Linked DNA regions of Homo sapiens: all the other regions are linked to region 2. Evidence: fine-mapped expression QTL. A gene starts in region 2. Each other region holds a variant in brackets. All regions are shown on one strand. Distances are between the middles of the regions.

Region 1 (2,763 bases), 23 kb after region 2:
CCTTCCCACTTAAAAATACTAAAGATCAGCCAGCCGTGGTAGCTCACACCTGTAATCCCAGCACTTTGGGAGGCAGAGGCGGGTGGATCACCTGAGGTCAGGAGTTCGAGACCAGCATGACCAACATGGAGAAAACCCATCTCTACTAAAAATACAAAATTAGCCAGCCGTGGTGGCACGTGTCTGTAGTCCCAGCCACTCGGGAGGCTGAGGCAGGAGAACAGCTTGAACCCGGGAGGTGGAGGTTGCAGTGAGCCGAGATCGCGCCATTGCACTCCCGCCTGGGCAACAAGAGCAAAACTCTATCTCAAAAAAAAAAAAAAATACTAAAGGTCTCCATAGAGCAAAGGTTCTCCACTCACCTATGGGAGGGGCAGACTTCTACCTACCATGGTGAAAACAGAGTCAATACACGACAATGTCTAATTAGAATGAATATGCTCTAATCTGAGGAGAGAGACATATTTCCCTAGGTAAGGGTCACAGTTCATATTCCAAATATGACTGGGATGATATTGCACAGGGGCTCCCTGGGGGCACTTGGGAGAGAAGACTAGTAAAGAGCTCTGTGAGTCACCCCACAGGGAAATGCAGCAGTCTTGGAGTCTGTCTCTGAAGAGTATTCTACAAGAGAATTAGGACCCACTGTGAGCCACTGTGCCTAGCCGACATTTCTTAAAAGAAGACATACAGGCCAGGCGTGGTGGCTCATACCAGTAATCCCAGCACTTCGGGAGGCCGAGGCAGGTGGATCGCCTGAGGTCAGGAGTTCGACACCAGCCTGGCCAACATGGTGAAACCCTGTCTCTACTAAACATACAAAAATTAGCTGGGCGTGGTGGTGGGCGCCTGTAATCCCAGCTACTCGGGAGGCTGAGGCAGGAGAATCACGTGAACCCAGGTGGCAGAGATTGCAGTGAGCCAAGATTGCACCACTGCACTCCAGCCTGGGCAACAGAGAGACTGTCTCAAAAAGAAAAAAAAGACACACAAATGGCAAACAGGCATATGAAAAGGTGCTCAACATCACTGATCACCAGAGAAATGCAGATCAGAACTACAATGAGGTATCATCTCACCCCAGTTAAAATGGTTTATATCCAAAAGACAGGCAATAAATGCTGGTGAGGATGTGGAGAAAAGGGAAGCCTCATACATTGTTGGTGGGAAGGTAAATTAGTACAACCACTATAGAGAACATTTTGGAGGTTCCTCAAAAAACTAAAAACAGAGCTACCATATGATCCAGCAATCCCACTGCTAGGTATATACCCAAAAGAAAGGAAATCAGCATATCAGAGATATCTACACTCTCATGTTTGCTGCAGCACGGTTCACAATAGCTAAAATTTGGAAGCAATCTAAGTGTCTATCAACAGACAATTGGATAAACAAAGTGTGGTACATATACACAATGGAGTACTATTCAGCCGTAAAAAAAGAATGAGGTCCTGTCATTTGCAACACCATAGATGGAACA[G/C]GAGGTCATTACATTAAGTGAAATAAGCCAGGCACAGAAAGACAAACATTGCATGTTCTCACTTACTTGTAGGATCTAAAAATCACAACAATTGAACTCATGGAGATAAAGAGTAGAAGGATGATTACCAGAGGCTAAGAAGGGTAGTGGCATGGTAGGAAGGTGGGGATAGTTAAATAGTACAACAAAAATAGAATGAGTAAGACCTACTATTTGATAGCACAACAGAGTGACTACAGTAAATAATAACTTAATCATACATTTGAAAATAACTAAGAGTGTAATTGGATTGTTTGTAACACAAAGGATAAATGCTTGAGGGGATAGATACCCCATTCTCCATGATGTTCTTATTTCGCATTGTGTGCCGGTATCAAAGCATCTCCTGTGTCCCATAAATATATACACCATGAACCCATATAAATTAAAATTAAAAAAATTTTAAATAAAATAAATTTAAAAAGAATGGTCAGTCTGCATCCTCTGCACCCAAGAATCCATATTCCTCACAGGAGCTCACTTCTGGCAATCCACATAGTGTGTGTGTGCACGCACTCCGTGTATATGCTTGTTGCAGAATCACCTTCTTCAGTAAATTTCTCAGGGTTAATTTCACTTTCCTCTTATTCTTCCTTTACCCTGAAGTACCTCTATACTTATATATCTAGTTGCAATTATCTCTCCCTGCATCCCATTAGATTATCATGCACTATTTATTTATTTATTTATTTATTTATTTTTGAGACGGAGTCCGCTCTGTCGCCCAGGCTGGAGTGCAGTGGTGCAATCTCAGCTCATTGCAACCTCCGCACCCCGGGTTCAAGCGATGCTCCTGCCTTAGCCTCCCAAGTAGTTGGGATTACAGTCACCCACCACCACACCCAGCTAATTTTTGTATTTTTGGTAGACACAGGGTTTTGCCATTGTTGGCCAGGCTGGTCTCGAACTCCTGACCTCAGGTGATCCACCCGCCTCGGCTTCCCAAAGTGCTAGGATTACAGGCATGAGGCCACACTATTTTATATACTGCATATATTACCATCATAACTATCTTCTGGTTGACTCTACAATTAGTACGATTAGATCTTAAGATTTGTGTGTGGTTTTTTTTTTTTTTTTTTGAGACAGAGTTTTGCTCTTGTTGCCCAGGCTGGAGTACAATGGCGTGATCTTGGCTTACTGCAACCTCTGCCTCCAGGGTTCAAGCAATTCTGCCTCAGCCTCCCAAGTAGCTGGGATTACAGGCATGCGCCACCATGCCTGGCTGATTTTGTACTTTTAGT
Region 2 (2,763 bases):
TTGCTGTTCATGTGAAATCTCCTAAATGTAAGCACACTTCTTCAGCCCTCGCTGCTCATCTCGCCTCCTCCTCTCTGTCACCCACCTCTGTCATGTCCAGTTCATGTTGGCCCACAGCCCTCACACTTCCATTCCTCAAAATTCCTCTTGGCCTGCCTCTGATCCCCTCACACACTCTGCAGCTCCCATGGCTAAGACTCACCAGGCAAAATGACTCCAGAAACTTAACCTGGAGTACGGTGCAAGAAAGCCACTGACCCAGGGGGGCTGAGCCAGGGCACCAGGACAATCTTGCTCCTTCCACTGCACTCTTGCCTTCCCAGGCCCCACCCATCCCAAACAGGAAAGCAAGATCTCTAGACCCTTGGAGCAGAAGCATTTGAGTCCTGCGAAGGGCTGTTGGAAGAATGCTGGGTTCAGCAGCAGGGAACAGAGAGATTTAGGAATTCTGGTTCACTTACCCGCCTCCATGCCCACGTCAGGCAGTGGCAAGGCCACCCCTGCTACACAAATGCTCATCAACTACACAGCCTGGGGGAAGTCACCGAACCACTTTGTGCCTCAGTTTCCTCATCTGTAAAGTGGACATAAGTGTCCCCTGAATACGTATGGCAAACCGTCAACGTGTGCCCAAATAGAGTGAGCAGATGTAAGGAGTTATTGTGCTATTAGCACAGTGGCTCCCAGACTCACAGAGCCTACTGCTCAGAGAGACGCCGAGGGGAAAGCTTAAATTACTTTATATACTCAGAAGCATTAGTCACTTCGACAGAGTATTTCAACTTCCCTCCTGAGCATCTACTCAGTTGTTTCAAAGACTGAAGCCTCACCTAGGTTCCTTATAGACTTCCATCATCTTCAGCATCTCAAAGCAGATCCAAAGTCCACTATTCCTACGCTGGAGGTTTATTATTATTTGATTATTTCCAGGAAAACTTCGATTTCCATTTTGCTTGTAATAAATCCAAACGTGGAGAACGACAAACTGCTTAGACTCACACAGGCCCTGGAGTTGACTGCGCCCAGGGGCGAAGAGACCGCGGAATGGCCGAGGCAGGAGGCCGGCCAGGGCACCGGTCCCCGTCAGGTGCCCCCGTGCCCGGGCTGTATGGGAGGGGAAGGGCCACGGGCTCCGCGCCCAGGCCAGGGTGCCCCTGCTGGGTGTCCGCGTGCCCCGGCGGAGGGCGCGGGTCAGGTGGCCCCAGACTCCCGGGCGCAGAGTGTGCGCTCGCTCCGGCTTGGGGAGGCGGGGGCCGGCCCGCCGGGAGGCTCCGAGCCCGGTTACGCCAGCCGCGGCCCCGCAGTCCCTCCGGAGGGGCGCGCGGAGAGCGCGCGGCGCGGGCTCACTCACCCCATCTCCGGCGCTGCTCCGGCGGCCGCTCCGACGGGGCCTCTCGCGCTCGCTCTCCGCCCGCTCGGCAGCCGCTCCCCGCGCGGCACATGCGGCGGCCCGTGCGCGCCCGGCTCAGCCCCGGCGCCGCTCCATTCCGCGGGGCTGCGCGGCTGCCACTGCTGCCACTGCCGCCACCGCCGCCAGGCGCGGGCGGGCGGGGGCTGGGCGGCCGCGCTGGGGCGGTGCCCGCCCCGCCCTCCCCAGCCGCTACCCCCGCCCGGCTCCTTACGTAACCTCGTGGCCCCCGGGCCGCGGCAGCGAGCCAAGAGGCGGGGGGCGCAGCACTGTGTGCACCGTCCCCCGCGCAGCCGCGCAGTCGCCGCTTTTCTCCCGGGCCACCCAGTCCTCGGTGCCGGCCCCGCGTTGGCGCGCCCCCGCCCCACGCCGACCCGGGGCCCTGGCGCAGTGCCATCAACATCCTGCCTGATGGACTTAAAGTCCCATTCACACCTGGCGGGGACTTTAGGGCTACCTTTACTTTGCAGATAAGGGAACCGAGGCCTGGGGAGGGTAAGTGATTTGCCCAAGGTCACACATTCAGATTAGAGTTCGTTCGGGTCTCCAGAGTCTGAGATGGGCATAGCTGTGCTCCTCCTTAAAGCCCACCTTCATCTTCCTGCCAGTTGCCCGGCCGAGTGGCCTTAAGGTACCCGCCACCGTGAAATTTCGGAAGCCAGCCTGGCAGAGAAGAGCCTACAGGCCGCGGCAGATGCTCTGGGCTCTTTCCTGGATAAAAATGAGATGAGGGCTCCCACTTGAAGGGGCAGTTTTAAGGCGGCTTCATCAAGCTTGGTTTTATCCTTAGAGCGAGGGGAATTAGGATGGCAAAAGTAGAACTTGAAGAAGAGCAGGCTCTCTTCGTCGCCTTTCTACCTATCAGGTCCTGAGTTTCTACCAAAGGCTGGCACTGGGACTAACCTAACCTTCATCCCCCGGGACTTCCACGGGATCATCTTCTGCTGGGAACACACCGCCCACATAAGCCTGGCATCTCAGGACAGTAAAAAAGTCAAGGGACAGGTCGGGCGCGGTGGCTCACGCCTGTAATCCCAGCACTTTGGGAGGCCGAGGCGGGCGAATCACGAGGTCTGGAGATCGAGGCCATCCTGGCTAACACGGTGAAACCCCGTCTCTACTAAAAATACACACACACAAAAAAAATTAGCCGGGCGTGGAGACAGGCGCCTGTAGTCCCAGCTACTCCGGAGGCTGACGCACAAGAATCGCGTGAACCTGGAAGGCGGATCTTGTAGTGAGCCGAGATCGCACCACTGCACTCCAGCCTGGGCAACAGAGCGAGACTCCGTCTCAAAAAATAAATAAATTAATTAATTAAATACATAAATAGCCGGGTGTGGTGGCGTGCTCCT
Region 3 (2,763 bases), 280 kb after region 2:
CGCTTGAACCCAGGAGGTGGAGGTTGCGGTGAGCCAAGATCACGCCACTTCACTCCAGCCTGGGTGACAGAGTGAGTCTCCGTCTCAAAAAAAAAAAAAAAATAGCCCACTACATCAATGATACAATGATGACTGGTTCTGATGACCAGGAAGTAGCAAGTATCCTAGATGTCATATTAAGACACATGTGTGCCAAAAGGTGGGAGATAAAAACCACACAAATTCAGGGACTTAGGGAGGTTTTTGGAAGTTCATGAGCCTAAAGCATGTTGGAATATCTCTTCCAAAGGGATTGACATGTTACTCTAATTGCACTTTCTACCATTAAAAAAGAGGTTTCCTTTTTAATGCTTGACTTGCTTCTGGAGGTCAATGTATGGTATATTTGAGTGTGCTCCAACTCAGTACCTTGATAGTTTTGAAGGGGGCTCCAAACACGAAAAGTCTCTGCATCAGGTCCAAGCTGTAGTAACAAGCTGTTTTGCTACTTGGACCTTCTGTGCCAGATGTATTTTATAGGTTTATGGCACAAAGAGATGTTCAGTGAGGCCTCCTGAAAAGCCCTGAAGGAGAATAACAGAGCAGGTCTCTAGGATTTGAAAGCAAAGTCATGCTTCATTCTCCAATTGAGAACTAACTCTGACTGGGTTCCTGTAGAGCTAGATTGTTTAACCATGGAACATCAAGAGACCACGTAATCTTAGTTTCCTCTTATGAACTAGGTGTTATCTGATTCATTAAGCAATAAGGGTGAGCATTCACAGCACCAATTATTAATTAAATAGAAATTGTATAATAGGGATCAAAATTAAGCAAACCTGAAGGCACAAAGAAATTACATATGACACCTACCCCTGCTTCACTGTTCCTCTCCCTCTGTGTAGTCCTATAATTTGCTGGTGAATTCCTTATTACCAATTGGCTTAGGAAGAAAAACTGAAACCTAATGATACTTGTACGAACAGGAAGTAGACTGCTGTAGCATTACAACCTCAGAAGGATTCCTGAAAGACAGTGTTGAAGAGAAATTGTCTCACCTAACAGAACTTCAAGCAGTCCATTTCACTGGCAACTGGGTCAATGTGAAATACTCAGAGGAGAGAATCTGTATTGGCCCATGGGCAGGGGTTAAAGAATTGGCCAGTTGGTCAGGGACATTGGAAAAAATAAGATTGGCAAATCAGTGAGAAGGGATCTAGGGAAGAGATATGGGGATGGACCTATTTAAAAGTGCACAGAGTGTGAGGATATTTGTGTCCAATGTGGATGTTCACCAAGGGCACCTACTATAGAATAATCATGTAGACAGGAAGACATGCTCTGAGGAGGTTAGCCAGCCCCTTTCCCACCCAATGTTTCCTCAATTGCTCATGTTCAAAGTGGCCATGATGGCAGGGATGGGCATAACAGCATAGACTTTCCCTCACCAAAGATGATCCAGCAACCATTGCTACATGTCTCACCTCCCAGCAGCACAGACCAGTGCTGATCCCCAATGTGGAGTGGGTGATAATTTGTTCCCATTGAATAATCAATTGATATGGACATG[G/A]ACTTATCTTTTCTGTCTGCAATGCTTCTGATAGCACCATCCTCCCTAGACTTATGGAATGCTTTATTCATCACCAAAGTATTTCATACATCACTTTTGACTAAATAATTCATTTTACAGAAATAGAAGAGTCACAGAGGCTCATGCCCATGTCATTTACTGGTTGTACCACATATCCAAACACCCAGAAACCAGTGGCCTGAGAGAACAGTGAAATAGCCTACCAAAGACAATTACAGTATAAATTGGAAGACAACACTCTAGGTTTGGGGTATATTCTACAGGGTGTGTGTGTGTGTGTGTGTGTTTGTGTGTGTGTGTGTGTGTAACCAGTAATCAACATATGTGCTATTTTTTCCACAGCCAGAATACTCAAGTCTGGGGATGCAGGTGCAGAAGTGGGAGCATATCCTAACGCCCCACTCACAGAATTTTTGTTTCCTATCCTTGATAAGGTTCTGCTGGCTTAGAAGTCTTAGTTCTCCACGGAGGAATGCTTCCATGAGGGAACATAATTGATTTACATTTTTTATTTATGAGTTGGGACTACCATTGGCCATTTTGGACTTTGTATGTCTCTCAACTAACAGGCAAAGGAGGTTATTGTATTGGCTGGAGTAATCCCAATTACATAGGGGAATTTAGTTGCTAAGACATAATAAAGCTCAGTAGATTCTCTAGGGTACCTCTTAGTACCATGTCCAGTAGAAAAAAAGCTAATGAAAAACTAAATGAAGACAAATGGGGATCAGACCTTTCAGGAATGAAGGTTTGGGCTACTCCAAAGAATCTGGGTCAGTTGAGATACTGGCTGAGGATAAAGGGGGTTGAAATGTACAGTGAGATAGGAAGCTCTATATAACAACTACAGCTTCAGTACCACGTACAGAAATGGGGTGAAGCAGCTATGTATATTTTTTCCTTGCTTGATATGTACATATACATCTGTATGTATTATTTTTCCTCCCTACTTCTCCCTTGTTTTTTAGATAAGGGTTACTCTTAGTCTAATTAGGTTCCAAATGATTCTCATGGGATTCCAGCTAAACTAGAAGAGAAAGTAGCATCACACAGAGATGGATATGGGGACTGTTATGAGTTTACCTATTATTTTTTGGGGGAAGGGGATGAGAACTTCTTTGTTGTTCTTGGTTGTGTCTTGATAGGTGGAGGCATGGAGTTGTTATTTTTCTTGGAAATTTAAAATATGAGCA

Which allele goes with the higher level. Positions count from the first base shown, and alleles are read on the strand shown. Sizes are in standard deviations (SD) of each study's normalised expression. Not every link is listed here.
With allele G in place of A in region 3, the expression in skeletal muscle of the gene that starts at base 1,541 in region 2 is higher (small effect, 0.31 SD a copy in GTEx).

Evidence for each region. PIP is the estimated chance that this variant, and not a neighbour inherited with it, causes the effect.
Region 1: its variant is the best candidate, but not a certain one, in a credible set for the expression of HOMER2 in whole blood (INTERVAL, PIP 0.74).
Region 3: its variant is the best candidate, but not a certain one, in a credible set for the expression of HOMER2 in skeletal muscle (GTEx, PIP 0.64).

Annotation. Positions count from the first base shown.
Region 1 is chr15:82,974,096-82,976,858 of GRCh38, forward strand. It overlaps a transcript of HOMER2 not described here. Among named protein-coding and RNA genes, the nearest start is that of RAMAC, 11 kb to the right of the region's middle. The variant G/C (reference allele first, on the strand shown) is at 1,481.
Region 2 is chr15:82,951,180-82,953,942 of GRCh38, forward strand. HOMER2 (homer scaffold protein 2) reads right to left here and starts at 1,541. Exons shown (of 9, transcript NM_004839.4): 1 at 1,352-1,541. The coding sequence starts at 1,356. RefSeq lists an enhancer at 791-1,291.
Region 3 is chr15:83,233,443-83,236,205 of GRCh38, forward strand. No RefSeq gene overlaps it. Among named protein-coding and RNA genes, the nearest start is that of HDGFL3, 27 kb to the left of the region's middle. The variant G/A (reference allele first, on the strand shown) is at 1,550.